Homo sapiens: one gene and its partners. The main gene of each other region encodes a partner of the protein of the gene in region 4 in a complex. Each region holds a gene or a part of one and is shown on either strand. Other genes may lie near its edges. The genes, in order: NCAPG2, NCAPH2, SMC2 and NCAPD3. A codon is read from its position in the direction of its gene.

Region 1 (7,071 bases), on a different chromosome or scaffold from region 4:
TAGCATAGGTGGGTGGGAATGGAGTTGAATATCCCAGTTCATTTCACCTTCTCATTTATAGATGAGAAAACTGAGGACTCATATAGTTAAAAGGCTAAGTGTTTGTCAAGCTAGAATTTCCAAATACACAGTCTTCAAGTCATAAATACATCATGTGATGATAATTTATATGCATGCTACTAGATTATGTATCTGAACCTAAGAAGAATGAATACAATCTTCATACTCTATAGAGTGCATAAGATGCATCTATCTAGAACTCTCTCAGTGAATAGCACCTTCATCTCTTACCAGCACACCACTGCACAGAACTGGAATCCTACAGAAATGCAATACATTTTGATTCAAATGCAGGGTAACCATGCTCACAACAGGCAAGTTAAAAAAAAAAACAGTAATATTCACTGGAAGTAATCTGTTAGTACAGTACAAGATGTTTATGGTTTACCCAGAATGACTGGAAACTGACCTGACCAAATTAATGATTGATTAGGAAACTACATTTAGATATCTTAAATTCAAAGGAGACATCAATTTTTTAAAAAGGGTAGAGGTTATAACACATACATACATTTATGTCTGTTATATATCTGCACACATATATAAGTTAACAAGTACGATTCATCAACTCCTTATGTATAAGTCAACATAAAATAGTTTATTGTTTGAATCCATCATTAATTTCTTCACTCTCCCATTTCAGAACAATCCTGGAGACATGTGTGGGGCACAGGCTGTGTCCAACATCTTTGTAATAACGATGGTGCTGACACAGCAAGGATGGCAAAGGGCAGCCCTCCCCAGGGGTTCTTATCCACCAGCGCCTGGGCTGCGGTTTGATACATATTACCTCATCTGTTCCTAACAACAATCCTGTGAAACAGTAACTGTTGCTCCTATTTTACAGAACAAAACTCTGAGGCTGAAAGGCCTGACCAAGGGCACCACCTATAAAGTGAACAAAGACCCTGGGAGCCAAAGGTCTCAGTCCTAATCACATGGCCCTTTGTCTAGCAGACTGCAGATGGCTCGCCGGGGTCCAGTTCTGTCTCTGCCGCTGAGCAGCTGTGACACCTGGAGGAAACTTATTCTGTACCTCAGAGCTGGTCCTCCTCTTCCTCTGAAGCCCTTCTCCACCTCCTTCAGGGAGGAGGGATGACTTCCTCCTTCTGCCTCAGAGATGTGCCTGCTGAGCCATGAGCATCCAAATGCAAAAGCTTGTTCTAGTCTCCCCTGGCACTGCCTGAGCATGTAGTCGACGCTCAGTAAACAACTGCAGAAGGCCCCTAACACAGAAGAACTATGCGAGCCTCTCTGTAATTCTCAATTCTTTAGTAGTCATGTTAACAAAAGTAAAGAAGATTAATTTTAATAATATATTTTATGTAAAGCAATATTTAATATAACAGACAATAAAAATATTGTCTATTATATTAAGTATAGAACAAAAATTATTAATGAGCTATTTTATGTTCATTTCTTTCCCACTAAATCTTCAAATCCATGTGTATTTTATACTTATGGCTAATCTCAGTTCAGTTGGGTCCCATTTCAGGTGCTCAGTAGCCTCATATGGGAGTTGACCCCAGGACGGGCAGTGCAGCAACAGGCCAGAAGCCTCTCTGGATTTACAGGATGGGTAGAAAAAAGAAAGGGAGGATATTATGGGATGACAGTTTTGAGTACATGGCAATTAAAATGGAATTAGGGCAGAAGGCCAGATCTCATTCATAGAGAAGTGCTTTCTCAACCTTATTTTTAATCATTCTTAATTTAAAATGTAATTACGGTTCCCCTAGGTAACACACAGCCACCTGTTACCATCCAATTTAATGATGAAATAAGCAAGGACTTGTAAAATGTCTTCTCTAGTACTGCCATGCAGTAAAAATCATGTGCAGTAAATAGCTCCTGGTAGCTAAGCAACACCGAGCATGGTGCAGACAGGAACCATGTGAACACAGGAGAAACATCTATTAAGAAGCAGCTCACAAACAGATCAAAAAACAAATACCTATTTACCTCTTCTTTCTTGATATAATTAATATTTATGAAGCACTCAAGTAACATATCTTTAATTTCTCCACTTTCCTCCAAATCATAATCAAAGCAATATAAAGCTTGATGGATACGCCAAAGCCGACATACGTCTGCACCCTAGGAATGACACAAAAAATGTGATACCTTTTTCAATGAACAGTAAAGTCATATTTCAAATCAAGTATATTTTATATCATAAATAATGGTAATTCTAGTTGATTCATCAAAGATTAAAAAATAACGACAAATAAAAACAGATTTTAAAATTTGCAAATGCCCCCTATAGCTCTACAGAACATTTTTTTAAAACATAAGGAAAATAATTAAAAATCCAGCAAGTTTAAGAACTTCCTCGATGATGAAGATTTTATACATCTGAACTGTCTAGTGCAGTAGACATTAGCCACATTTCACTGTAGAGCTACTAAAATGTGACTAATGCAACTGAGGAACTGAATTTTTCATTATTTTTAACTTTAAATTTAAACAGCTTTCTGTGGCAAGTGGCTACTACGTTGAATAGCGCAGGTTTAGAATGTTAGGAAGACGTTTAAAAATAAAGTCCTAGCTAGGTGGTGCACTCCTGAAGTCTCAGCTACTTGAGAGGCTGAGGCAGGAGGATTGCTCGAGCCCAGGAGTTTGAGGCTGCAGTGAGCTATGATCATGCCACTGCACTCCATCTGGGCAATAGAGAGAGACCCTGTCTTTAAAAAAATAAAAAGTGAGCATACTGTCTTAGTCTCCAGACTCCTCCTTAGTAACATGACAAAGGCTGTCTTTCCTGTGTCTTCCTTGGCAGGCAGGCCTTTCTCCCACCAGGTAACACACAAATCCTGAATAGAACTCTGTAGTTTTCGTTCAGACTCAGGTAATGCATATAAAATACCTAAAATACAGCACAGTAATTTTCCAATTAGTAAGGCAAATTCTTATTACTTCAGAGTCAACAGTTTAGAGTATCATGACTTTATATATTATTTAAAGCTTTGCTAAGCAAATAATATTAGTTATGTTTAACTTGCCAAAGATTTATATACATTAGTTATAAAATGCAAATAATGTTAATTAAAAAACTGTTTGACGATTGTTATAAAAAGACCCTCAACAGACATAATAGAAAAGAGATTTTTGGAACTGGAAGTCTCAGAGAAATCGTATCACCAATTTTAGAAAGGCAGATGCTGAGGCTAACCAAACCTCAGTGTAACAACACCAATGGTATCTCTGTTAACACCAGAGCCAAGACAGGTCTACTGACCAATCAATAATCCACTACTATCCCTCAATGTGCCAGCCTCAAATTTTGGCTCAGAGGTGAAAAACAGTCAAAGCAATTACCATAATGAATACAAAAACTGCAGTGCTTTTATTAACAGAAAAGCTCAATAATTAGATTAATGATACTAATGCTCATAATTATAATCTGTAGGTATCTGAATGTCATTACACTAATATAACATTCCTGAATTAACTGGGAAGTTGATAGCAACTACAGTGTTAGCACTAATCATTTCACTAGTTATTTGCAGACCATACAAATAAACTGATAGTAAAATTCACAAAGCATTTGGAAGCTATTTTCATTATGATTGGGGTGACTTTTTAATAAGACACTGTATTTCAACTCAAGAATTCAGAATAAAACAATGTACTATAAAACATACATAAATCCAAGTGATGCTAAGAATAAGAAGCTTGATGAGATACTTTGTCACAACAAACTAATTACACTCGCACAGTGAAGGATGAGGGTATGTGAAAAGTTTTCTTAAAAATCATTAAGATATTTTTACATCTTTTGTAACTAAAATTTTATATATTTCATAATCAAATATTTTCATTAACTTAGACTAAATTAATAACTAGTTTTACAGTTTTGTTAAAACTTGAAAAGTACCATCATTTAAATTTCAATACAGTAAAACTCCCCTAGGAGTCAATAATCACTCCTCAGATCACGTTCACAACATACTTTAAGAAAAAATTCAGTGTCACAAATTCTTAGTTAAGTTGACACTATCTAGCAATGGTAATCACATAATCAGGTATTTTCTTCTCAACAAGTTCTTGATCATTGGTCCAGTAAGTCAGACTTCCCTGAAAAACCTGTAAATAGCAGTTAGTTGCTGAGTACTGCCCATCTCACCATCTATAACATCTGAATGGAGCTTAAATTAAACTAATTAGGCCAGACACAATGGCTCATGCCTGTAATCCCAGCACTTTGCCAGGGCAAGGTGGGAGGATCACTTGAGCACAGGAGTTTGAGACCAGCCTGGGCAACACAGTTAGATCCTGTCTCTACCAAAAAACAAAACAAAACAAAACAAAACAAAAAGCATGGGCCATGGTCCCAGCTACTAAGGAGGCTGAGGTGAGAGGATAGCTAGAGGCCAGGAGGTCAGGGCTACAGTGAGCTGGGTTCATGTCACTGCACTTCAGCATAGGCAACAGGGCGAGATTCTGTCTCTAAAAAAAAATGATAAATATAAAATAAATAAGTATTCAGGACAACTCTTATGTAAGTATGCTCCTATTCTAGCTGAAGAAAAAGAACTTGACTGCAAAGCTATACCTTTATACAACTTCTGCTACTAAATTCAACAATGCTCATGAAAACAACTAGTTTCCTTTTACAAAGTATCATTTCAGGCCAGCCACGTGGGAGGCTGAGACGGGTGGATCACCTGAGGTCAGGAGTTTGAGACTAGCCTGACCAACATGGAGAAACCCTGTCTCTACTAAAAATACAAAATTAGGCGGGCGTGGTGGTGAATGCCTGTAATCCCAGCTACTAGGGAGGCTGAGGCAAGAGAATCGCTTGAACCCGGGAGGCGGAGGTTGCGGTGAGCTGAGATCGCGCCATTGCACTCCTGCCTAGGCAACAAGAGCGAAACTCCGTCTCAAAAAAAATAAATAAATGAATGAATAAATAAAAACAGAAACAAAAACAAGTATTTCAACACCCACTTCTAAATATGCCATTTATAACAAAATCAACTCACCATTTAATATAATAACACATTCCAGTAGGGCTTCGTAGTTCTCACTTTCATTTATTACAGACACAGAAGCAAGAATCACAGATGTAATTGCATAAATTATTTCTATGCTTTTTCTCTATAAATGAAAAATCAAAGCATGAGTGAATTAAAATCATCAACTTAAAATCAGTTTTTAGCAGAAATTTCAGTTACAAATTTTCTAAAAATCAAGCCACAATTCTAGCTTATTCTAAAAAGAATTAAAGTTGAATAAAAGTAAATCATCCTAAAAGAACAGCAATATTTAGTATTAGATTAATAACAGTAGGGTTGAAAAGTGAATAAAACTACAACAGACTAAACTTCTAAAATTCTTGACTTCTAACTTCAAAATCTGTCTTAATGTAAAATTCAATGATACACAGTGAAGTTATTTTTTGACAAAAAAAAGAGAAAAACGTTTCTTATTTTTGAAAAACAAATACTACCATTTTTGAGCCATGTTCGGTTTCCATATTGTCTTCACCCTGGGCTTCCACTACCTGCCACCCATCCACTGGGCTTTCTAACAACACATCTGTCAATAAATTCTTCAGCCTTTGCCATAATTCTTCTTTCTGTTTCCTTGATAATTCATCTAGTAATTCATTTAGGCTGAAAGGATCAGAGGCCTCTTTCTGTAACATAAATAGCAAGTGTCACATTTCAAATACAAAAAATTAATCATATCCTTTTCATAATGTCATCAAAAGAAAAGTTAAGTGTTAACTTCATTACAAGTTCAAGAGTTTGGTTGCAGTATTCAAAATCCATTCCTAAAAGGGAAGAAGCACAGGGATTCTCCACCTATTCTTTCCTAGCATCCTAATCTTCAGAGTTTTTAAAATTTCACCCACTTAGCAAAACCCTCCCTAAAAGGGACCCAAATGTCCACCATCTCCATACCTAGAATTAGATTACAAAAGTAGGCTAAAGTTCAATAACAATGGCAATAATAATACTGTGGCCACAGATTCCAGCCCCAAGTGGGCCCTCAACACCACCTTCTACTCATTCCTCAATATCATTCTCTCCCACCAGCCAACAAGATGATTTCAGATCTCCTCCAACAACCCTCTAAACCCATTTCCTCTTATCTGAGATGACCTCACGTACTCTTTGATGAAGCAAATAGCGGCCCTCATCAAAAGGGCATAGAATCCAATTAAAGGGACTCCCTATAGCCAAATTTGGAACAATGTGAGCACCAAAACAGTGACAGTGATTAATTATAACCAGTTGAATGAAATAAGCATAAACGAGGCCAAGCCAACCACTCTGGGAGAGAGGGCTGCAGTGAGCTGTGATTGTACCATTACACTCCAGCCTGGGCAACATAGCAAGAGCCCGTCTCTAAAAAGAAAAAATCAATGACAGCATACTGATAATAAATATCAAATCATTAATTAATAGCACCTGCATGCTCTAGAATGTCAGTGAATAAACATAGATGCAATACAGGGTTAGAAAATCACTGTTTTATAGCCATCACAATAATTATGGACTCTGGCAGGAATTATCGGGAGATGCTGAAACAAGTGGGTGGAAGCCTGGTGAGCAGCAGGACATTACAGTGTCACCACTTTCCCACAGAGGCAGGTTCCCAGAAGAGACCTGGCGGACACCTACCCACACAGGGACGGACAGACCATGCCATGCGCTTCCTGTCTTGACAGCGCCGAGGACCTAACACTGCTAAGCAGTTCCTGCCAAAATGCACACTAAAATTTAATCAGATCCTCAACAGATGCAAATTGAAGGCTATACCACAAAAGAGCCACTTGCACTCTTCAAAACTGTCGGGGTCATAAAAAACACAGTAAGATGGAGGAACTAGAGTAAAGATAACCTCATAAGCCCTCCATCCCCCCATCCTCTCTTCCTGCTCTCCTAGCTCCTCTCCTGCCCTGGTGTTTGTTTTCTCCTCTTCTTAGCGCTCCTTCATTTTTCATCTAGCTTTTTCCACCTCCGCTTGTTCACTTCTATCTACTCTCTTTCCTCGTTTCCT
Region 2 (7,578 bases), on a different chromosome or scaffold from region 4:
AGGTGGAGGCTGCAGCAAGCTGAGATTGCACCACTGCACTCCAGCCTGGGTGACAGAGTGAGACTCCATCTCAAAAAAAAAACATATAAATAAATAAAATTTTTTTTGGCTGGGCGCGGTGGCTCATGCCTGTAATCCCAGCACTTTGGGACACCGACACGGGCGGATCACCAGGTCAGGAGATCGAGACCATCCTGGCTAACACGGTAAAACCCCGTCTCTACTAAAAATACAAAACATTAGCCGGGTGTGGTGGCAGGTGCCTGTAGTCCCAGCTACTCGGGAAGCTGAGGCAGGAAAATGGCGTGAACCCAGAAGGCAGAGCTTGCAGTGAGCTGAGATCATGCCACTGCACTCCAGCCTGGGCGACAGAGTAAGACTCCATCTCAAAAAAAAAAAAAATTTAAATGGTTTATGATAAACATTCTAAAGTGTGTAAGGTGCTGAGATGGAGAGGACTATTTTAGATAGGGTGGTCAGCTGACATTTACACTAAGACCTTAAGAATGAAAAGGACTCAGTCAGCCAGGCGTGGTGGCTCACGTCTGTAATCCCAGCACTTTGGAAAGAGGCAGAGCTGGCTGGATCACCTGAGGTCAGGAGTTTGAGACCAGCCTGGCCAATGTGGCGAAACCCATCTCTACTAAAAATACAAAAATTAACTGGACGTGGTGGTGCATGCCTGTAATCCCAGCTACTCGGGAGGCCAAGGCAGGAGAATTGCTTGAACCTGGGAGTCGGAGGTTGCAGTGAGCCAAGATTCTGCCATTGTACTCCAGCCCGGGCAACAGAGCAAGACTCCATCTCAAAAAAAGAAAAGAAAACAAACTCAGTCATTGAAAGAATATTCCCAGCCAGGTGTGGTGGTGCACAGCTATAGTCCCAGCTACCTGAGAAGCTGAGGCAGGAGGACTGCTTGAGCACAGCAGTTTGAGACCAGCCTGGGCAACACAGTAAGATCCTCCTCTCTGATTTTTTTTTTCTCCTTTTCCTTGCCATATGAAGTCCCTCTTTATTTAAAAACAAAAAAGAGGCCGGGCGCGGTGGCTCACGCCTGTAATCCCAGCACTTTGGGAGGCCAAGGCAGGCGGATCACGAGGTCAGGAGATCGAGACCATCCTGGCTAACACGGTGAAACCCTGTCTCTACTAAAATACAAAAAAATTAGTTGGGCGTGGAGGCGGGCGCCTGTAGTCCCAGCTACTGCAGAGGCTGAGGCAGAATGATGTGAACCCAGGAGGCGGAGCTTGCAGTGAGCTCAGATCGCGCCACTGCACTTCCGTCTCAGAGTGAGACTCCGTCTCAAAATATATAAATAAATAAATAAAAACAAAAAAGAAGATTCCCAAGTGGGGGCAGAAAGCATGAAGATCTTCCACCAAGAAAAAGCTTGGAGGGGCCATAGGTTGACTGGTTCAAAAGAACAAGATACAAAACAGCCCAAAATGAGGCTAAAATGGAGAGCAGAGCCAGGTTCAGAGAAGGAAATTTGGGTTTTATTCTGGGCATAATGGAAAGCCACTGAGGGGTTGATTTTAGGCAGAAAACAGTGCTGTGGCCAGATTTTAATTTTTAAGAGTCACACTTGCTGCTGGTTGGAGCACGAATTGGACGGGACAAAAACAGGGATAAGGGAACCCAAATAGGAAGGTTTTACACAAATCCAGGCCAGAGACAATGGTGGCCTAGACCAAATAAAATGGACAACAGATGAATTCAAGTGATATTCCGGTGGTATAACTGATGGAATTCATGGATGAACTGAGTGTTAAGCATGGGGCTTCACTATAGCCACATTTAGCTTTTGCTTTTGGTTGAACAGCGGTGTCATTTTCCGAGATGGGAAAAGCTGGGGTTTAAGCAGAAAAATGAAGAGTTCCACTTTAAATATGTTAAATGAGATGTTTGCGTGACACCCACTAGATGTCAAGAGAGCAGCTGGATATGTAAAGTAGATTTGGAGGAAAGATCTAGGATGGAGCTGCAGATCTGGTAGTTGTCCTAATACAGGCAATATTTAAAATCATAGAAATAAATGACACTTCAGGGTAAATGCATCAGAAGATGACCTAGGCCCCATCCTGAGGAACTCAACACTTAGAGACTGGATAGAAAAGAAAAATCAGGCAATGAAATAGGGAAAAAAAATCCTACCACCATGTTTCAAAAAGAAAGGAGTGGCCAGTCCAACAAATGCTGACTTATGTCCCTTGGATTTGGTAGAATGGAGATCACTGCTGATCAAGACAAGAAACATTTAAGTGTCGTGGACGCCAGACTGAGCTGGGCTGAGGAGTAAAAATGAAGCGCAAATATGGAGCAGACAGCTTAACACAGGTCTAGACAGGGCTGTCAAACATGGAAGAAACACTAATCGCTAACAGGATAGAGCATGGCAATAGCTTGAAATTGGTTTGAAAATCCAAGATAAAAAATTCCTCTGACATCGTGATCCAGACCTCTCAAACACACAAGCATGCTCGCAATAACTGCAATAAAAGCAATAATGCTTTCTAGTCTATTCCACTACGTTAGAGAAACGGCTGGTCACCACCCACTCAATCATTCACGGCTCGCTGACGGGTAGAAACCTGCAATGACAGGTCCACGCTAATCCAACAAGGGATGATTTGGGGAGGCAGAGATGGAGTTTGAAAAGAAGCAGGGAGCCCGAGGACCTGCGCGGCCAGAGCGCCAGATAGCCATAGGCGTGGAGACGGTGGGGCGCCCACAGCCCCGGGCCCGGAGCCCCCGCCCCGCAGCCCCACCCGCCGGCCCACCCCGCGTCACTCCCCCGCCGCCCTTACCTCCTCCAGATACTCGCCCAGCTGGGCCGCCACGTCCACCTCCCAGTTCTTGGTGAGGTCGCGGATGGGCTGCAAGAGGTGGGCGAAGCGCGCCTCCACGTCCTCCATGTCCGGGAGGGAACGGGCGGCAAAGGGACCGCAGGGCTGCCTTCCGAGGGGTACGGCGTCCTCAGCCCGCCACTAGTTCTGGCGCCATTTTGCTGTTCCCGCCCAGGAAAATGCGTAGGCGCGGCGTCGCGCGCATGTCTATGACGTAACGTGGGCAAAAGCCAGAGAGGCGAACCCCGGCGCCGCGCAGCGGGAGCTCACCGGAAGAGTCGCGGGGCGGGGTCGAAGCCTCCGGGAGGGGGGGGTGGGCGGAGCTTTGGGCTGCCACCAGTTTGGACGGGAGGGCTTTTGGGGCCGCCGTGGGTCGGGCGGGGCGGGGTGGGGCGGGGCCTGGAGCTGCCGCGGGCGAGCGGGCCGAGGAGGCGGGGCTTGGGGGCTGCCACGGGTTGGGGGGGCGGGGCGGTGAGGAGGCGGGGCCTGGGGCAGCCGCGGGCGGGCGGACGGGCCGAGGAGGCGGGGCTTGGGGCTGCCACGGGTTGGGCGGGCGGGGCGGTGAGGAGGCGGGGCCTGGGACTGCCGCGGGCGGGCGGGCGGGCCGAGGAGGCGGGGCTTGGGGCTGCCACGGATTGGGCGGGCGGGGCGGTGAGGAGGCGGGGCCTGGGGCTGCCGCGGGCGGGCGGACGCGGAGGGCGGGCCCTGCTCTAGCGGGCCGCGTAGCGGACATGGCGGGCTCCCGGCTCCCGCGGCAGCTCTTCCTCCAGGGCGTGGCGGCCGTCTTCATGTTTGCTTTCGCTTCCCTCTACACGCAAATCCCAGGTGAAGGCACCCAGGGTGGGACACCCCCAGCCTCGGCGCGGGACCCTATGTCCTCTTTTCTCTGTGCCCGGCACTCACGCAGTCCGGGGTTGGGAGTGAGGGCCAGGCCTTGGCGTGGGGTAGGGGGCGGCGGTTCGTGTCCTGCAGGCCGCTGTGGGGGTAGGAAGGTGTGCGGTGATCCATTTCCCGTAAGGCTCTGGACTCTGACCTGGGGTGGGGGACAGAACTCTGAGAGAGGTGGGAGAGAGGCTTCCTCCCAGACCTGGTGGGACAGGTAGGAGATCGGGCTGAGACCTGGAAGAGGGCAGTGGGCTCTGCTGGGTGGGAGGCCCTGACTCAGGTAGTTGAGCAGGCCTCTAGCCCTGGGACGGGGTTTTGACAGGTCCCGACCTGGGGGACGGGCTCTGGAGGGACTGCAGACTCTGACCTAGGGATGGAGGTATCCGCATGCTCTGACCTAGGCTGGGGGATCTGCAGGCCCTGACTCAGAGGTAGTCTAGTCTGCAAGGGCTGTCCAGGGCCTGGCCATGACATGCCCTCCCACAGGCCTGTATGGCCCCGAGGGCATCCTACCTGCAAGGAGGACGCTGCGGCCTCAGGGCAAGGGGCGCTGGCAGCAGCTGTGGGAGACCCCGACGCTGCTGTGGGAAGCGCCGAGACTGGGGCTGGACACGGCCCAGGGCCTGGAGCTGCTGAGCCTGCTGGGTGCACTAGTGGCCCTGGGAGCCCTGCTGCTGAGCCCACTGCGCCACCCTGTCATCTACTTGCTGCTTTGGGCCGCCTACCTGTCAGCCTGCCAGGCAAGTGGGACCTGTGACCAGCTCACTCTATCTCCAACCCCCACCACCCACCCCTGCCTCTACCTTACCTGAGTCCACAGACACACCCGCTCCCTGACAGCCCCTCTCTCCGCAGGTGGGCCAGGTGTTCCTTTATTTCCAGTGGTGAGTGACGGCTGGGCCTGGGGCTGTGGGAGGCTGGGTAGGGGGTGGGGGAGGGCTCTGCCCTTCCTGGGAGGACTTTCCGAGGGAAGCAGCTGTGTGGGGAGGGGCTCTTGGTGCTATTTGCTCTCCCCATAGGGACTCCCTGCTGCTAGAGACTGGCTTCCTGGCCGTGCTGGTGGCCCCGCTGAGGCCAGCCTCCCACCGCAAGGAGGCCCCCCAGGGCAGGCAGGCAGGGGCCCTGCCCCACGAAGACCTCCCCTTCTGGCTGGTGCGATGGCTGCTGTTCCGCCTCATGTTCGCCTCAGGCGTGGTCAAGCTGACCAGCCGCTGCCCTGCGTGGTGGGGGCTCACTGGTGAGGGGCCCGGTCTGGACCTGGGGTAGTCTGGGGGCTCGGCCAGCCCTGACTCCTGCCCTCGCCTGCAGCCCTCACCTACCACTACGAGACCCAGTGCCTGCCCACGCCCGCCGCCTGGTTCGCACACCACCTGCCGGTCTGGCTGCACAAGCTCAGCGTGGTGGCCACCTTCCTAATTGAGATCGCTGTGCCGCCCCTGTTCTTCGCCCCCATTCGACGCCTGCGCTTGGCTGCTTTCTACTCGCAGGTGGGTGAGGGCCGCAGCTGTCAGAGAGAGGCAGACAGGGCTCGGCCTTCAGCGCTGCTCAGCGTGCCCTGTTGGGGACAGCGTGGCTCCCGGGGACAGCTGGCAACCGCTGTTGGGAAGGCCTTGTAGCAGAGGGATGCACCCTGCAGGGTGGAGGTGGGTGCCTGCCACGGGGCCAGGCGTCAGTCTCCGGGAGCACTGAGAGCGGGCCGCCCCCAGGTGCTGCTGCAGGTCCTGATTATCATCACCGGCAACTACAACTTCTTCAACCTGATGACGCTGGTGCTTACCACTGCGCTGCTGGACGACCAGCACCTGGCTGCTGAGCCTGGCCACGGCAGCCGCAAGAAGACGGCCACCTGTGCGTGTCACTTGTCCAGCCCCCTGCCCTCCCAGGGGTTCTCCCCTCCAACACCCCCACAGGACTCCCACTCTAGCTGCACCCCAGCCCCCTGGCTGGGGACCCTCTGCTGACCCATGACTGTCCTGCCCCACAGCCTGGCCCAAGGCCCTGCTGGCCACCCTGTCGCTGCTGCTGGAACTAGCCGTCTACGGGCTTCTGGCCTATGGCACTGTGCACTACTTTGGCCTGGAGGTTGACTGGCAGCAGCGCACCATCCACTCCAGAACCAGTGAGTGCCGACCTGGGGGGGCCAGAGGGCAGGGGCGGACCAGTCCTCACACCCCCCTCCTCCACCAGCTTTCACCTTCCACCAGTTTTCTCAGTGGCTGAAGACACTGACGCTGCCCACTGTGTGGCTGGGTGTGGCCTCCCTGGTCTGGGAGCTGCTGAGTGCCCTGTGGAGGTACATGGCCCAGGAAGCAGGGAGGGGGCACAGGTGTGCAGGGCCGGCCTGACGACCTTGGGTCCTTGCCCACAGGTGGACCCAGGTGCGGGGCTGGCTACGGAAGCTCAGTGCTGTAGTCCAACTGTCCCTTGTGGGCACTGCGACCGTGGCCTTGTTCCTGATTAGCCTGGTGGGTAGCGCTGCAGGGCTGGGGGATGGGCTGGGGGCAGGGCAGCCCTGAGAACCTCCCACCTGTCTCCAGGTGCCGTACTCCTACGTGGAGCCCGGGACCCACGGGCGCCTCTGGACCGGGGCCCACCGCCTGTTTGGTGCCGTGGAGCACCTACAGCTGGCCAACTCCTACGGCCTCTTCCGCCGCATGACTGGGCTTGGTGGACGGCCTGAGGTGGTGCTGGAGGGCAGTTACGACGGCCACCACTGGACGGTGAGCCCTCCCAGGGCGGGCAGGGTGGTGGGGCCCAGGTCAGCGGGCCCAGCTGACCTCGGCCTGCCTGGCAGGAGATCGAGTTCATGTACAAGCCTGGGAACCTGAGCCGGCCGCCCCCGGTTGTGGTGCCCCACCAGCCACGCCTGGACTGGCAGATGTGGTTTGCAGCCCTGGGCCCACACACGCACAGCCCGTGGTTCACAAGCCTGGTCTTGCGCCTGCTGCAGGGCAAGGAGCCAGGTGCGGAGCGGGCTTGGGGGGTGTGGAGTGGGCTGGGGTGGAGCGGGGTGGGGAGGGGAGGGGCAGGGCGGGTACTGTGGGGGCCACGCTGATGCCTCTCGCTGCAGTGATCCGCCTTGTCCAGAGCCAAGTGGCCAGGTATCCCTTCCACAAGCAGCCGCCCACCTACGTCCGAGCCCAGCGCTACAAGTACTGGTTCTCCCAGCCTGGGGAGCAGGGGTAAGGCTGGGCACCGGGTGGGGTGTGGAGCCCGGGGTGCAGGGGTAAGGCCGGGCACCGGGGGGTGTGGAGCCCGGGGTGCAGGGGTAAGGCCGGGCACCGGGGGGGGGTGTGGAGCCCGGGGTGCAGGGGTAAGGCCGGGCACTGGGGGGGGTGTGGAGCCCGGGGTGCAGGGGTAAGGCCGGGCACCGGGGTGGGGTGTGGAGCCTGGGGTGCAGGGGTAAGGCCGGGCACTGGGGGGGGTGTGGAGCCCGGGGTGCAGGGGTAAGGCCGGGCACCGGGTGGGGTGTGGAGCCCGGGGTGCAGGGGTAAGGCCGGGCACCAGGGGGGGATGTGGAGCGTGAGGAGCTGAGGAGCAGGGGTAAGGCTGGGCACTGGCGATGGGGTATGGAGCCCGGGGTGCCTCCAGCTTCTGAACATCGGGTCCTGCTGCAGCCAGTGGTGGCGGCGCCAGTGGGTGGAGGAGTTCTTCCCATCCGTGTCCCTGGGGGACCCCACGCTGGAGACGCTGCTCAGGCAGTTTGGACTACAGGTAAGGGGGTGTCAGCCAGGCTGGGGGAGGTGGCAGGGGTGACCCCAGCCTCCCGGGGTAAACCCAGTAAGCACTTCCCCAACCTCCCTCCCTCCCTCCCTCCCACAGGAGAAAAGCCCACCTCGCACCCGCA
Region 3 (7,806 bases), on a different chromosome or scaffold from region 4:
TATTAACCAGCATGCAAGTGATAAAAGCCAAGGATAGCTGGAAAAACAGAAAGAAACGAATATAAAACAAGTAAGAATAGAACTTACTTCATGAGTAGTACATGAAAATTTTTTTTTTGAAAAAGCTCTGTCACCAGGCTGGAGTGCAGTGGCGCGATCTAGGCTCACAACAACTTGTGTCCGCCTCCTGGGTTCAAGCGATTCTCGTGCCTCAGCCTTCTGAGTAGCTGGGATTACAGGCATGCATCACCACACCCAGCTAATTTTTGTATTTTAGTAGACGGGGTTTCGCCATGTTGGAACCAGGATATTCTCCATCTCCTGACCTCCTGATCTGCCCACCTTGGCCTCCCAAAGTGCTGGGATTACAGGCATGAGCCACCGTGCCTGGCTGAAAATACTTTTTTAAGACCTAGTACCAGACTTCTTTAGAGAAGTAATTACTAGTTTTTAGGAAAAGTGACTTTGAATAGAGAATGTGAGCTCTGTAAGGAAGGCTCAGGAGGAGCAAAACAAAGATCACTGATGTTCTTCACGAAAAGTAAATGAGAAGACCTCCTCCAACATGGTCGACTGAGCTTTCCTTTATAAACTCATAGAAATAATGGATAAAATATAATTATTGTTCTATAAACCATATACAACCGTAAAAACAAAAAACAGCAAAAAGGAAATTCTCAGTGCCTGAAATAAATTTTAAAAATTGAAGAGCAGAAAGCAGAACAGATACTGCGGTAGCCCTCCAAAATTTTATACTTGGCTATATGCCTCAGGAGCCAGTAGTTGAGTTTTAATGTCCAAGCACAAGGCTGAGCTTTGATGAGGCAGGTGAGCTGGAACTAAGCCCTTATGTAAAACCTGGAGCCTTAGGAATAGCCAGCTACCGGAACTGGAAAAAGGCAATCTACTAGTTTGGGGAAGCGATAAAGAAGTTTGTTCTTTGGGGCTTTGGATAGGGTGGGAAAAAAAAAACATAAGGTACCTATGAGAAATCAAAACTGCAGCCCTGCAACAGATCTAAATATACAATATTTGCATAATTCAGGAGCCACAAACTGAGAAATTATCATTTGAAAATGCTTCAGATCTTTAAGAGCTACGGTATGCTGGCAGAAGCAAATGCATAATTGTCTAAAGGGACTCTTTTGCAACTAAGGGTGTAAGAGAGTCCCATAAACAAAACCATCCCACTGAAGAAGAGCACCACATGAGGAAATAAATCACTGAGTAAGAGTCAGTGGAGGTCGTAAACAAGAGTTAGGAACTGAAAAGCTAAAAATAACAGAACTAACAGAAAAGAAGATAAAATAAAGACATATAACTTGATTAAAAGGACAAAATAATAGAAATCATAATGAAAGAAGAGGCAGAATTCACAAAGAACCAAACAGAACATGTATTTTAGAAAACAATATTGTCACTGACATTAAAATGAATGGGTCTAACCAGTCCCACTGGGTGAATGAATATAATAACCTCCTTTTCTATTCCTCATTTTAAATTATACTTAGCTGTGTTTCTTTGCAAGTTTGTCAAACAGGTTATATTCGGTGAACCCACAGTTCAAATAATATGGCGTTAGAAATAAAATACAGTCATGCGTTGCCTAACGACGAGATACGTTCTGAGAAACGCCTCATTAGGCAATTTCATTGTTGTGCAAACATCATGAAGTATACTTAACACAAACCTACATATTATAGCCTTATGATTCTAGACTACAAACTTTTATAGCATATTACTGTACTGAATAATGTAGGTAACTATAACACAATGTTGTGTTTGTGTTTCTAAACAGAAAGGGTAGTATGTTGCACTACGATGTTACAACATCACTAAGCAACAGGAATTATCCATTATAATCTTAAGGGACCACAGTCACATAATGTAATCAGACATTGAAATATTATGTGGTGCACGAGTGTATTCAAAAAGTGCTGCCAGGCCACTGCCCTCCAGCCTGAGACAGAGTGAGACTCCTTCTCTGAAAAAATAAAAGTGCTGCTAGTCAATCCAATGTAAAAATATAAACTTCCTGTCATTATCAATTCATTTCCTTGAACCTAAAAATAATCTCTCAACAAAATGAGTCTTCCTTACTTCTGCGGTAAAGTCCTTTCTTTTTTTCTTGTCCTTTGTTCCAAGGAGAAAGGATTCACTCGGGTCCCTGTGAGAAGAGCTTCTTTAGCACTCTAAAATTAGAAAAGTATACCCAGGAGAGAGCAGGTTCCTTCCAGTTCCCTAGGAGAGTAGAGCACCAAATATTTCTCCTAGGTCTTGCTTTGTGGCTGTATGTGTGTCCTTGCTGGTACTGATGATGCCTTCCATATAAGGACTCAGACTCCACTAGCTGCCAGATTTCTGCTTGAAACACTGCCCGCTAGCGTTGAAGCTTTCAAACGATTTTAATCCATGGTGATGAAGCAAGAACAGTGTTTTCTGTACACTGCATCTACCCTATACTCTCTGTTTCTACCCCTCACATCTCCAAATTAGGGGGCTTCACTGGCTTTGTGCCTTGGTTTTTTCCACTCACCTGTGTGATCTCAGGAGGCAGAGTTTCAAGTTAGTCATCAGTGATTTCCTCAAGTCCATTTGTCTTATATTTAGCAGCAATTCCTTAGTGCTTCTGGCACGCAATAAGACTAAAACTGAGAGATCTCCACCTTTATAAGCATTTTTCATTTTAATCAATGGTCTTAATGGGAGTAGTTAGATCTGCACATTCTTCTAACCACCCAGGAGTCCTTATCCAACAACAGTGCACTTGTGTATGTTTTCATCCATGTGACGTAAGTGTATCAGCTAGTTGTTAAAGTGCAAAGACTAACAGTCTGTCTTAACACATATTTCCATACCAAAAAATCACTTTATTTCACAACGTGACAAAGTCCACATTAGGATTTGTTGGCAAATTAAAATTCTTTACTCACAAAATGATAAAAGGAAGGAGACACAGCTCAAAGTTAATGTGTAAGAGTTAACAGAATCAATACAAGTGAATAGCTGTGGAGCCCAGGGGATGCAGGAATCAAGGCAGACAAAGATATCTGTTGAATTAAATTAATGTTAGGTCACTACCCATGGTTGACATCACAGAAGTGGATAAGCATACCAGAGTAAACAAAGGAATCCTTTCTTAAACAAAAAACCCATACAACTTATTTTACTCCCTTATCGAGAAATATTTTCAAAATATAAGCCCATTCCTGGTAGGTTAAGACCAATTCAGATGACTGCATTGCCATTCCAGGGCCAAGAAAGCAACTTTAAAAACATGACCTACGCTATGGTCTAAATGTGTCCCTCAAAATGCACATTTTGAAATCCTAACTCCCGAACTGACGGTTTTAGCAAGTGGCATCTTGGGAAGTGAGGAATGGGATTAAGGTCCTTATAAAATAGGCCCAAGCGAGGGCCTCTGCCTCTCCACCATGCGAGGACAGAGCCAGAAGGTGCTATCCACTAAAGAGAAAGCACCCCTCCCTAGACACACCTTATTCTGTGACATTCCAGCCTTCAGAAATGTGAAGAATAAACTTCTGTGGTTCATAAACTACCCAGTCTAGGATATTTTGTTATGGAAGCCCAAAAGGATCAAGCCATTCCAAAATAGCATTGTTGCCCACACCATCTTTTTGAACCTCACTTAGGGTAACACCATACCCATTCGGAGTTAAGCCCTTCCTAACTCTTAAGTATCAACGTGCTTGGAAACGTGAGCAATCCTGACACGTTTTTTCTTCCTAAAGAACAATACATACTAATAATAGGATCGGCTAATAATACTAGATTCTATGCATGAAGCCTAGTATTTAAAAGCATGCAATCTGGAGCTAGACCGCCTGGGAACAAATCCCAGCTTACTAGACAAGCTGTTTAACCTTTTACTTGGTCTCATTTAACTCATTTGTAAAACGAGGGCAATTTCTGATTTCATAGGGTTGCTACGTGGATTTTAAAAAGCCCCTTGCAATATAGCCTAATATTCAGAACTCAATAACATGAACTGTCTTAAAAGGTTTCCAGAAAAAATCCCCAACAGGTTAGGTCGGCTTATCATTACAACGCTTTCCGGTATAAGGGAGATGAATAGCTATTTAGCACCACACAATTTCTCCTCTGGGCTCGGAACAGCTCTCGGTAGACTACGATCCCTTTCCGACGTGGAAACTTCAGATAAAAACGCTCCCCGAGGTCCGAGGCCAGTACGGGGCGGAGCCAGGACGCGGGCCAGAGTCCCCCGAAGGACGGTGCCTCTCTGGCCCCAAGAAGTACAGCTTTTATTTTGCAGCAATCTGAGCCAACCCGAGAAGATTCTGAAGCTTCCAAAACAGAACCGACGAGAACACTCATAGAATGCCTCTCCACTTCCTAACTGTCGCTTTGAGGAGAGAAAAGTAAGCCACAGCCAGCACCGCAGACTGGAGAAGGCGGAGTCTGCAGTGTGCCTAACGCGAACTAGAGGGACCGAGGCGGGGCGGGGCTGGCGAAGCGCGAGGACCCGGGGCCGAGGTGTGGGGCTGACCATAGAGTGCCGGACGCCGGTGTGAACATACACTATCTGCTCCTGTAGTGCCCAGGCCCCTGCCGGGGAGTCCCCGGAGCTACCATTATCGAGACTCTCATTCTATTGCCCTGCGGCTTTAATCCTTCGAGTGTAGGGGAAAAATTGAACCCTAAAGACAGGCAGCTCCTAGGCACCAGCACAGGAAATAAGCAATGGAGGTGGGGTCCTTTGCTCGCGCCGAAATTCAAAGGAATAAATAGTTCCGGCGCGGGTGTTGAGAGCGGTGTGGCAGGTGTTGTAGCCGCTATGGTGAAGTTCGCTTTGTAGCGGCCCCGGCTAGAGAGTTGTTCTGTTCCCTGCCTTTGTGACCCGGAGGAGCTTTTGGGGTGCGTCAAGCCCCTGGCCTGAGGCAGCGGTGAGGCGTGTGCGTGAGCACGGCCGGTTGGGCCGGGCCAGACTTCCTGGCGGGAGGCGGGAGGCGGGAGGCGGGGCGCGGGGCGCGGGGGCTGTAGGGAGGGGGACCAGTGGCAGAGGGACCTTAGGTGATCCTTAGAAATAAAGGCTAGCTTCTGTTCGACCTTGGAGTAGGGCGAAGAGGTGTAGACAGGCCTGGAGAAGCGAGGTAAAAGCCTGAGTAAAAGCAAGAAGTTGGAGAATATGAGATACATCTCATCTCTAGTAAATACTTAAATGACTTCCCCTCCTCCCGGAGTCAAGCACAATTCGGGGATGCAATGACGGACGTAGGTGAAGACACTGCGGGAACTTACAGACAAGTAATGACCGTCTAATATCAGCTTTAAGTACCATGAAGGAAAAAGAAAGCCGAGTGAAGGATTGTGGAGAGGTGACATAGGGAGGTCAGGGAGGACTCCAGTAAGGTGACATTTGAGCAAAGACGTGAGTGCAGTAGAGAGTAAGCTATGTCAGTATCAGAGAAAAGCACATTATAGGCAAAGATAATGGGATATGTAATAATCCATAGTCTTTGTTTAGGTAGAGTATGATAAAAGTAGAAGGCAAGCCTGGAAAAACGGGTAGAAGAAATAGTTAAGACTTCCCAGTTGAATGGTTTAATTTCCAGATAGTGGCTAACTCTGGTATATTTTTGAGTAGATGAACGATGTCTTTACATCAGACAAGATAGTTTGTCAAGTGGCTGTTTTATTTCTATCACCCTATCGTTGCTGTTTTTGCCTCGTGTTCATTATGATTCCAGGTTTACATTCCACTTAGGTGGTGGTATTTCTGTTTCGTACAGAACTGGTTTGTGGCCTGTTTGATTCCTGTCAGAGGTTTGCTGACCCAAGACAGTATCGAAAATGCATATTAAGTCAATTATTCTAGAGGGATTCAAGTCCTATGCTCAGAGGACCGAAGTCAATGGTTTTGACCCCCTCTTCAATGCTATCACTGGCTTAAATGGTAGTGGGAAATCCAACATATTGGACTCCATCTGCTTTTTGCTGGGCATCTCCAACCTGTCTCAGGTAAAGTGTAAACTTTCTGATTTATTTGAATTTAAGTTGGCAGGAGAATCCTCACTGAACTTTGGAGACGTCCCGATATTCTCTTCATTTGTGTTTTTATACTTTTTGTAAATTACACCTCACTGCAACCTTTTAAGGAAAGTAATATTACTCCTTTAGATGAGAAAATAGAAACTTAGAGATGTTTAGAAGTAACAGTGCCTCAAAACTCAGGCATTCTGACTGTAAAGCAGTCTCATTCCAGAGTATTTTCAACCCTGTGTAATGATGCCTTTTCAAATCCTATTAATGGATTGAATGACTAGTGAAAATCTTTGGGACAGTATTTCCTTATATCTTGCAAAGTAACTTTTTATTAAAAAATGAATAGGAAACAATTCAATTCAGGGTTGAAAAGGTTCTGTAGAGAAAAGTGTCCATTGCAGGTTGTTGCCTATTTTCCTTGTTTTTCTTGCCAGAGGATGCAGCTGCCTAACCTTGTCTACTTAATGGACACTACGTTGGTGGGTTTTCCAACAGCAAGGGACCCATTTTTAGTGCTGCTTTGTACGGTAGGGAGTTTTGTAATTGTTACACTTTTCATATTTTATTTTAGGTTCGGGCTTCTAATTTACAAGATTTAGTTTACAAAAATGGGCAGGCTGGTATTACCAAAGCCTCTGTGTCAATCACTTTTGATAATTCTGACAAAAAGCAAAGTCCTTTAGGATTTGAGGTTCATGATGAAATCACAGTAACAAGGCAGGTGAGTGGCAATTAAACCTTTGGGTATCTTAAGACCTTTTATGTCTGATGTGGTTTTTGGCCCTATGCCTTTGCAAAACGTGCTAGAGAAAGTTCATGAGCAAAATTGGTGCCTTAAATTCTGACTAGATTCCTTAATGTCTTCCTTATATTAAAATCTTGATCATGCACATTCTATCACTAAGAGGATTGAAAGACAGCTGAAAAGTTGTTCATCCAGTATAAGCACTCAGCTATGCTGAAATCTTAAACCATATTTGAATCTTCTTTGGTTGTTCTTGAACACCTGTGTACTTGAGATCTTTCAATCTTCTGAGATAACCCATTCTGTTTTTGGACAGGTCTTATTAGAAAGTTAACAGCTATAAGTTTTGTCAGAGTCTGCTGTCTTCAAATTTTATTCATTAATCCTAGTCCTCTTGAGAGCACCAAGAGCAAATCTAACTTATTCCCTACTTCAGTGTTTAAGTGATGTGCAAGTATATGTGTTTTAGTTCTAAGTGAAATCTTGCCAGGTCTTTCACTTGATGTTTGTTCCTAGTTCCTTCACTTGCCTGATTATACCAAGTATGCTCCAGTTTCCCTCCCTGCTCCTGCATTCATCTATCTTTCTTTCTTTTAATGGCACCTTAGATTGGGTGTACCAAAATTGGTCTAGTTGGAGTTATTCTTTCATTTTAGATATTCTACTTTTATTTTTCCCAGTAGAGCATTGGGGTGTTCATAATACATTGTGGATTCATATTAGATTTACTTGAAACCACTCAATTTTTTTTTAGGTGTGTTATTAATATAGTCAGGCAGTGTTTTCAGCTTGTCAAGGTTTTTTTTTTTTTTTTTTTTTTTCCTGAGACGGAGTCTCGCTCTGTTACCCAGGCTGGTCTCCATCTCCCGGGTTCAAGAGATTCTTCTGCCTCAGCCTCCTGAGTAGCTGGGACTACAGGTGCCCACCACCACACCCGGCTAATTTTTTTTTGTTTTTTGTATTTTTAGTAGAGACGGGATTTCGCTATGTTGGCCAGGGTGGTCTCAATCTCCTGACCTCATGATCTGCCCGCCTTG
Region 4 (7,071 bases):
CCTCTAAGCTCATCTCACAAGTGGGTGTGCAGCTTCCCTAAGTTTGTGTCACAAGTGAGCATGCCACTCCCCTAAGCTTATGTCACAAGTGAGTGTGCCCCTCCCCCTAAGCTCATCTCACAAGTGAGTGTGCAGCTCCCCCTAAGCTCATGTCACAAGTGAGTATGTAGCTCCCTCAAGCTCATGTCACACGTGAGTGTTCAGCTCCCCTAAGGTCATTTCATGAGTGTGAAGTTCCCCTAAGTTCATTTCACGAGTGTGCAGCTCCCCCAAGCTCATGTCACAAGTGAGTGTGAAGCTCCCTAAACTCATGTCGCAAGTGAGTGTACAGCTCCCCTAAGCTTATTTTACAAGTGAGTGTGCAGCTCCCCCAAGCTCATGTCACAAGTGATTATGCGGCTCCCTCAAGCTCATGTCACAAGTGAGTGTGCAGCTCCCCTAAGCTCATGTCACAAGTGAGTGTGCAGCTCCCCTAAGCTCATTTCACAAGTGAGTGTCCCACTCTTCTCACCATCTACTGGCTTCCGTGTTCTCCCTGGAATCCTGGTGCCATGCTCTGGTGCTGACTTCTTTCTTACTGATGGCTTTAACTCTTGCCAGATGGTGACAATTCTCAAACCTGTTTCCCACTCCAGCATTTCTCATGAGCCTGAGCTCAGGTCCCCCTGCTGCCAGGACGTGCTCCGGGTGTCTCTGACTTACTCTGTCAAAACTCCCTCAGTCATCTCTTCTTTCTGCTCTTCATCTCCTCTTTCTCCCACAGTTTATGGTGCTCTTGCAGACTGGAGTCTGGTGTGTCAGGCTGAGGCTTTTGTTGGCAGGAAGTGTAGAATTTGGATCTGAATGACTGGGGCAGAGCTTGGCTGCCACAGGCCTCTGCAGGCCTGTGTTTTCCTCCTAGCCTGGATTGCCAATGTGTATTTCCCACCTGGCCTCTGGAGGCTTTTGACTCCAAGGATATAGACTCTGATCATATCTTGCCACAAGATCCTGCCTGTTTTCTCTTACCAATCTATCTCTCTAGTTCTGACCTTATTTAAGCTTATCCCATTTCCATGGTTTCCTTACCACCCTTTCTGTTTCTGGTTTCTTTCTGTCACAGGCCATGTACCACCTTGCTGCCAGAGCAGTCTTTCTTTCTTTTTCTTTTTTTTTTTTTTTTTTTTTGAGACAGAATCTCACTGCGTCGCCCAGGCTGGAGTGCAGTGGCGCGATCTCAGCTCACTGCAAGCTCCGCCTCCCAGGTTCACGCCATTCTCCTGCCTCAGCCTCCCGAGTAGCTGGGACTACAGGCCCCTGCCACTGTGCCTGGCTAACTTTTTTTTTTTTTTTTTTTTTGAGACACAGTATCACACTGTTGCCCAGGCTGGAGTGCAGTGGTACGATCTCTGCTCAGTGCAAGCTCTGCCCCCCTGGGTTCATGCCATTCTCCTGCCTCAGCCTCCCTAGTAGCTGGGACTACAGGCACCAGCCACCACGGCCGGCTAGTTTTTTTGTATTTTTAGTAGAGATGGGGTTTCACAGTGTTTGCCAGGATGGTCTCAATCTCCTGATCTCGTGATCTGCCCGCCTCGGCCTTCCAAAGTGCTGGGATTACAGGCATGAGCCACCACACCCAGCCCAGCAGTCTTTCTTAAGTACAAATTTGATCATTTTATTATATCTGAAACAGACTAAAGGCAGGTTGACTGTGAGGGGTGGCAGGAAGCTTTTGGGTGATAGATGGTGAGTGGTCTGTAGTGCTGGTTATTCCATATAGACTTTTGTCAAAGCTCATGGAAGTGTTTGTTTAAAATGGGTAAATTTATTACATATGTTATACTTCACTAGTGAAATCTTTAAAAACTATGCTGGTGGCTTCCTGTCATCTTCTGAATAAACCCTGATTCTTCTTTTTCAAGGTAAACAAGAACTTCTGGTGTGCCTTCCACCTTTCCCATACCTCCCTCCATCCTCACCTCTAACCTCTCCACTTCAAATTGCCATCTGCACCTCAGTTGCGAGCTGCCCCCTACTCGTGTGCTCTTGCCTCTGGGTCTAAAGTCTGCAGCGCCCTCACCCACCCATCCTCCCTTCTCCACACATCCTCAGGATCATCCATCAGATGGCCATGCACTCCTTAGGCATCCCATCTCCATACCTAAATTCCCTAACACCCTGCCACTTAACACCTCTTCCCTTGAGACACACACTTTCTAGAAGTGGCTGGAGGGCAGGGATGCTTAGCTTCATTTTGCATCCTCAGAGGGTTAGCTCTTTGCCTGGACAGAGAAGGTGCTTGATAATACTTGTCAAGTGAATGCATGGAAGCCACTTCTTAAGACTATTCCTGAACATAACATCTGCTCACATCTGGGTTTATTAAATTGCTTATTTCTCTACTTGTTGTCCTTCTGTTTCAGGAACTCTGATAAGACTTTTTAGAAATGAGTAGTTTACAAGGAAGAAACATACACTAGTGACTTTAAATGAGAAGGAAAAGAGTAGTTTCAGCTTCAGGAGGATAAATCTTGCATATGTGGGCTACTATAGTGCTTTTTTTTTAATTTAAAGAGATTCACTGGAGAATATTTGTGGTTAGTGATCATTCAAGGTAAAGTGTGAAGACTTGGTCAAATCAGGTACTATATATATAAATTCATAGTATTTTGTAGATGTGTACACAGAGAGAGAGACAGAGCTGGCTGTCTTCATGCTTAGCCATTTTTAGACCATTGTCCCTTCACCAGCAGGAATACGAAGTGTCCCTCTGGGTAGCCAGAACGAGCTGACTTCTGTTCCAAGGGGAGGGTGTTGAATTGAGGACTGAAGGTGGAGCAAGAGCCAAGGTCCCTCAGGGTCTTCTGTGGAGATTTGGGGCTTTTGTCAAAAGCTACTCAACATGTTTCTAATTCTTTTTCCCCATTTAGAATATATGAGTAGTATTTGTCCCCACCCTATCTTACAAAGCCTTCAGAGTGTTTTGAGGTAATGCTTACAAAGTCTCCCAGAGAAAAGCAGAGGTCCTCTACATCCAGTATCATAATGAAAAGCAAAAATAAACTTACATAGTGTGGTAGGGTGGCTCTACTCAAAGAACTAGATCAAGGAGAGGCCTGTCTTTCAGAAGTTCATACATCTAAAACATGTCTTTGTTTGTGTTACCAGGTTCAGAAGAGGAATTTCATAGAAAATATTATTCCAATTATCATCTCCCTGAAGACTGTGCTGGAGAAAAATAAGATCCCAGCTTTGCGGGAACTCATGCACTATCTCAGGGTAAGGGTGGAGCCTGTGCTTTTGTGGTTGTTGTCCTACCAGTTCATTACTTAGGATCTTCTGCCAGTTATGACAGTGCAGGCAATCCGTGAATGATTAGAACCCCAAATTCTGCAAACCCAACATTACCTTGGTAACTGCTGTGGAGCTAGGGGTTGGCTGTGGGTTCCACCAAAGCCGCTCTTTCCCTTGGATGTGCAGCCAGGGCCGTGAAGAGCCGGCCCACTGTGCCAAGCACGTCTTCCCTTAATGGAGTTCAAGTCCATCTGGAAAACTTTCCCAGCTGGGGTCAAGAACACAGTCATCTTCGTTCATGCTGCTTGGGGGTAAGGTGAAAGTGAGTCTTCGGGTTTGATTTCAGGGTGCTTACCTTTTGCACTGACTCAGATTCACAAGGTCAGGAAATAACTGCCCTGCAGGAGCTGCCTTCGGAGCTGCCATCACCAGGCTGAATTCTTTGTCAAGCAAGGGGACCATGAGGAGCTCAGTCGGAGCAAACCCAGGATGTGTTGACTTGCAGGGCGGACCTAAGTGGGGCCTCAGACCTTTCTTGCAAAATCTTTTACTAAGAAATAAATGCAACATAGTTTTTCTTTAATTCAGCAGTTATAGCTCTGTTCACATTATGTGTTTTTCTTCCTCAAAAAAATGCTACAATTTTTTTTCCAATAAAGGCCTCAACAAAAATTACATTGAATATAAATTTTCAAATAGCTTTTTATACTAGGAAGCCAAGGTAGGAAAGATAGTCTCATTGTATGATAAAAATAAAAACTTCCAAATATTCTTGTATTTATTGCCTGACTTTAGACCCTAGAAAGGAAAAAAAAAAACAAAAACAGAGCTTTGATCCTACATAGACTACTTAAACACTTAAGAAAAATAAGCCTTCCTCCTGCTTGTGAGCACACACACAGGATGGCCACACGTTGCTTGTTGTCAGTAGCTTGAGGGAGTCTCTTCATTGGCCTGTGGAACCCACTCCTAGTGGCAGCTGGAAAAGTGCATGGATTCCTTCTCTTTGTTGAGACTTCCCTCCCAGTTGGAACTGCAGTGTCTTTTTCTCCCTATTACTGTTAGGTGGAATGATTCTTTCTCTTAGCAAAGTGGTCTTGCCCCTGGCACCCCTCTTTAAGACCTAAGAATGTTTTTCCCTAGGTATGAGAAAAGGTTTTCTGTAAAATCTTCAGAAGAAGACACAAAGATGGGATTTGAGCCTTAGTTGGAATCCCCTGAGAGCCAATGGGGAGGCTAATGTAGACAGATGAGCAGCTTTTAGATCCATGCATCCTGGGACTTGCTCCAGAGGCTGTGTCTGAGCATGTCTTTCTCCCATTGGGAACCTGGGAGAGATTGCCCATTAACTGCCACATAGCCAGGATGCTTCCTAAGAGAGAGAACTGTTAGTTACTCACATATTTTTCTGCTTGTGTGGCCAGTGGTGTTTGCTCCAAATATACCATTGTACCTGTTAGTTACTGGAATGGAAATCATCTGCTTTCAGTAATGTCAGTCCTATTGTTCCTATGATTTATCAAGCAACATGACTTGGGGGGCTTTTTTCTTTCTTAACTTTTATTTTGCGTTCAGGGGTACACGTGCAGGATGTGCAGGTTTGTTACACAGGCGAAGGTGTGTCGTGGGGGTTTAGGGCTTTACGTTTTTATTCAAGAAAACATGAAAGGATGCTCCTGGCTCTGTTTCAGGAGGTGATGCAGGATTACCGAGATGAGCTCAAGGACTTCTTTGCAGTTGACAAACAGCTGGCATCAGAGCTTGAGTATGACATGAAGAAGTACCAGGAACAGCTGGTCCAGGAGCAGGAGCTAGCAAAACATGCAGATGTGGCCGGGACGGCTGGAGGTGCTGAGGTGGCACCTGTGGCACAGGTAGGTGTGGGGCCCACTGCACTGTGACCAGACAGTCCAGTCTGCTGTCTGCTACCAGTCTGTCGTTTGTCTGGCACCTCTCAAGATCTCCGTCATCAGAGGTTAGTCAGCCCGAAGGCCTCGAGAGTGCTGCTTGTTGGCCACTCCCTCGTGCCTTTCTGTCTGTGATGGATTTACTGTGCTCCAGACCTCCCTTCCATGAGGACGTGGTGCAGGAAGCGAGCTGGCAGCAGCAGTAGCTGGTGACTATAGATCCTAGGTCTGCCAGGGTGTGTCAGTGTGTCCGCATCTTCCCCCAGCACTCCCTCTTTAGAGCAGACCGGCACACGGCCATTTCTAGGAGTAGCTGTTGCTCACCGTCCTGAGGAATGCAGGCAGATCTCTTGTAGGAAAGACCAATGAGCACAAAGTAGCATACTCCTTTTTCTCTTCTGTCATGCCACAGCATCTACAAGTGGCAGCTTTCTCATAGTATTCTGTTTCTGAAAAGGAAATTCAACTTACCCAGGGTTGATATGGCTTCAAAGTACATTACTTATGGACTTGCTCATAGTACGTGAAGATTCTATTCCAATAAAGTGTTAAAATGGAGAAAGGGAATGGCTTGTACACTGTTGGTAGGGATGGAAAGTAGAACAGCCACTATGGAGAACAGTATAGAGGTTCCAAAAAACTAAAAGTAGAGGTACCATATGAGGCAGCAGCCTCGCTGCTGACTGTATAGTCAAAAGAAAGGAAATCAGGATGTCGAAGACATACCTGCACTCCCATGTTTATTGCAGCACTGTTCACAATAGCAAAATTTGGAAACAAATGTCCATCAGTGGATGAATGGTAAAGAAAATGGGGTGCATATACAGTGGAGTACTTTTCATCTATAAAAAGTGAAATCTTGTCATCTGTTGCAACATGGATGAACTTGGAAGACATTATATTAAGTGAAATAAGCCAAACACAGAAAGACAAAGATTGTATGTTCTCATTCATATATGTGAGCCAAAAAGGTTGATCTCACGGAGTTAGAGAGTGGATTTTTGGTGATTACCAGAGGCTGGGAAGGGGTGGGAGAAGGGGGATGAAGAGAAGTTGGTTAATGGGTACCAAAATACAGTTAGATAGAAGAAATAAGTTCTAGTATTCAGTACAGTGGAGATATTACAGTTTAACAATTTACTGTATATTTCAAAGTACATAGAAGAATTGGAATGTTCCCAACACAAAGAAAAGATACTCACGTTTGAGGTGATGGAGATGCCAATTACCCTGATTTGATCATTACGTTGTCCACATGTATCAAAATCTCATATGGACCCCCAACCATGTACAACTATCATATATCCGTTTTTGAAAACTTAAAAAGTATTAGAATGTACATACTCTTTATCTTCTCTACCAGGTTGCCCTGTGTTTAGAAACAGTGCCAGTTCCTGCTGGCCAAGAAAACCCTGCCATGTCACCTGCCGTGAGCCAGCCCTGCACACCCAGGGCAAGTGCTGGCCATGTAGCAGTATCATCTCCTACACCTGAAACAGGGCCATTGCAGAGGTTGCTGCCCAAAGCCAGGTAAAGAGCCCCTGGAGGCCACATCAGGGCTGGTTCTCTGTGGCGATGTTCTCAGAGGCGTCCCTGCCATTCCCAAGCGTGGGCAGGAAAGTCATTGTCATTGTCTGGCCTGCCACCCCGCTCCACACTGTGCCCTGGGAGGTTTGAATGAGGGTGGTGAGGGATGCGCCGGTGAGGAGGCACGCGGGGACACAGTGCAGCACTGTCACCTCTGCAGTGGTCTGCAGTGAGAAAGTCAGCGGCTGTGGCTGTTCTCCACAGGCCCATGTCCCTGAGCACCATTGCAATCCTGAATTCTGTCAAGAAAGCCGTGGAGTCAAAGAGCAGGCATCGGAGTCGGAGCTTAGGAGTGCTGCCTTTC

What was found.
Region 1: the proteins of NCAPD3 (region 4) and NCAPG2 are in contact, whole or in part, in a cryo-EM structure (PDB 9F5W), measured with the Homo sapiens proteins. Residues at the interface, in NP_056076.1 of Homo sapiens: Glu1213 (codon at 3,211), Lys1216 (codon at 3,220), Ile1217 (codon at 3,223), Pro1218 (codon at 3,226), Leu1220 (codon at 3,232), Gln1247 (codon at 5,019), Ser1250 (codon at 5,028), Glu1251 (codon at 5,031), Tyr1254 (codon at 5,040), Lys1258 (codon at 5,052); in NP_001268861.1 of Homo sapiens: Phe291, Lys332, Pro333, Ile334, Trp336, Lys340, Ala341, Arg342, Arg347.
Region 2: the proteins of NCAPD3 (region 4) and NCAPH2 are in contact, whole or in part, in a cryo-EM structure (PDB 9F5W), measured with the Homo sapiens proteins. Residues at the interface, in NP_056076.1 of Homo sapiens: Arg589, Pro591, Met629, Glu680, Arg683, Tyr684, His690, Lys724, Glu793, Asp800, Gln803, Arg804, Arg807, Gln817, Leu820, Gln865, Leu866, Cys867, Pro868, Ala869, Arg870, Val871, Val918, Ile925, Lys929, Leu932, Gln933, His934, Ala956, Asn960; in NP_689512.2 of Homo sapiens: Trp22 (codon at 2,852), Ser68, Lys69, Glu72, Tyr75, Tyr79, Leu82, Asp83, Ser86, Ile144, Ile145, Pro146, Leu147, Leu148, Met150, Ala151, Leu152, Val153, Asp156, Glu159, Asn161, Asn162, Asn163, Pro164, Leu165, Tyr166, Ser167, Arg168, Gly170, Leu173.
Region 3: the proteins of NCAPD3 (region 4) and SMC2 are in contact, whole or in part, in a cryo-EM structure (PDB 9F5W), measured with the Homo sapiens proteins. Residues at the interface, in NP_056076.1 of Homo sapiens: Asp31, Met72, Ile80, Pro127, Gly128, Ala131, Phe135, Pro137, Asp141, Lys235, Gln237, Gln240, Leu1121, Asn1196 (codon at 3,160), Asn1200 (codon at 3,172), Pro1203 (codon at 3,181); in NP_001036015.1 of Homo sapiens: Arg112, Ala122, Asn123, Asn124, Thr125, Arg126, Leu218, Lys222, Arg225, His229, Trp940, Asn942, Ala943, Glu944, Phe948, Arg981, Met985, Arg986.

The regions. Positions count from the first base shown.
Region 1 is NC_000007.14:158,687,797-158,694,867, forward strand, and holds part of NCAPG2 (condensin-2 complex subunit G2), read right to left. Parts: intron 5,702-7,071; coding exon 5,513-5,701; intron 5,161-5,512; coding exon 5,046-5,160; intron 2,927-5,045; coding exon 2,772-2,926; intron 2,158-2,771; coding exon 2,023-2,157; intron 1-2,022. UniProt on the Homo sapiens protein: Regulatory subunit of the condensin-2 complex, a complex which establishes mitotic chromosome architecture and is involved in physical rigidity of the chromatid axis.
Region 2 is NC_000022.11:50,503,675-50,511,252, reverse strand, and holds the start of NCAPH2 (condensin-2 complex subunit H2), read right to left. Parts: upstream 3,030-7,578; 5' UTR 2,916-3,029; coding exon 2,808-2,915; intron 1-2,807. Other genes in the region: LMF2 (lipase maturation factor 2), read left to right, coding at 3,578-3,671, 4,218-4,471, 4,587-4,615, 4,751-4,968, 5,040-5,218, 5,438-5,579, 5,716-5,850, 5,919-6,024 and 6 more. UniProt on the Homo sapiens protein: Regulatory subunit of the condensin-2 complex, a complex that seems to provide chromosomes with an additional level of organization and rigidity and in establishing mitotic chromosome architecture.
Region 3 is NC_000009.12:104,089,553-104,097,358, forward strand, and holds the start of SMC2 (structural maintenance of chromosomes protein 2), read left to right. Parts: upstream 1-4,756; 5' UTR 4,757-4,925; exon of another isoform or gene 4,926-4,934; intron 4,935-5,074; exon of another isoform or gene 5,075-5,286; intron 5,287-5,746; exon of another isoform or gene 5,747-5,771; 5' UTR 5,772-5,832; coding exon 5,833-6,000; intron 6,001-6,595; coding exon 6,596-6,745; intron 6,746-7,806. UniProt on the Homo sapiens protein: Central component of the condensin complex, a complex required for conversion of interphase chromatin into mitotic-like condense chromosomes.
Region 4 is NC_000011.10:134,157,968-134,165,038, reverse strand, and holds part of NCAPD3 (condensin-2 complex subunit D3), read left to right. Parts: intron 1-3,147; coding exon 3,148-3,258; intron 3,259-4,964; coding exon 4,965-5,147; intron 5,148-6,543; coding exon 6,544-6,710; intron 6,711-6,971; coding exon 6,972-7,071.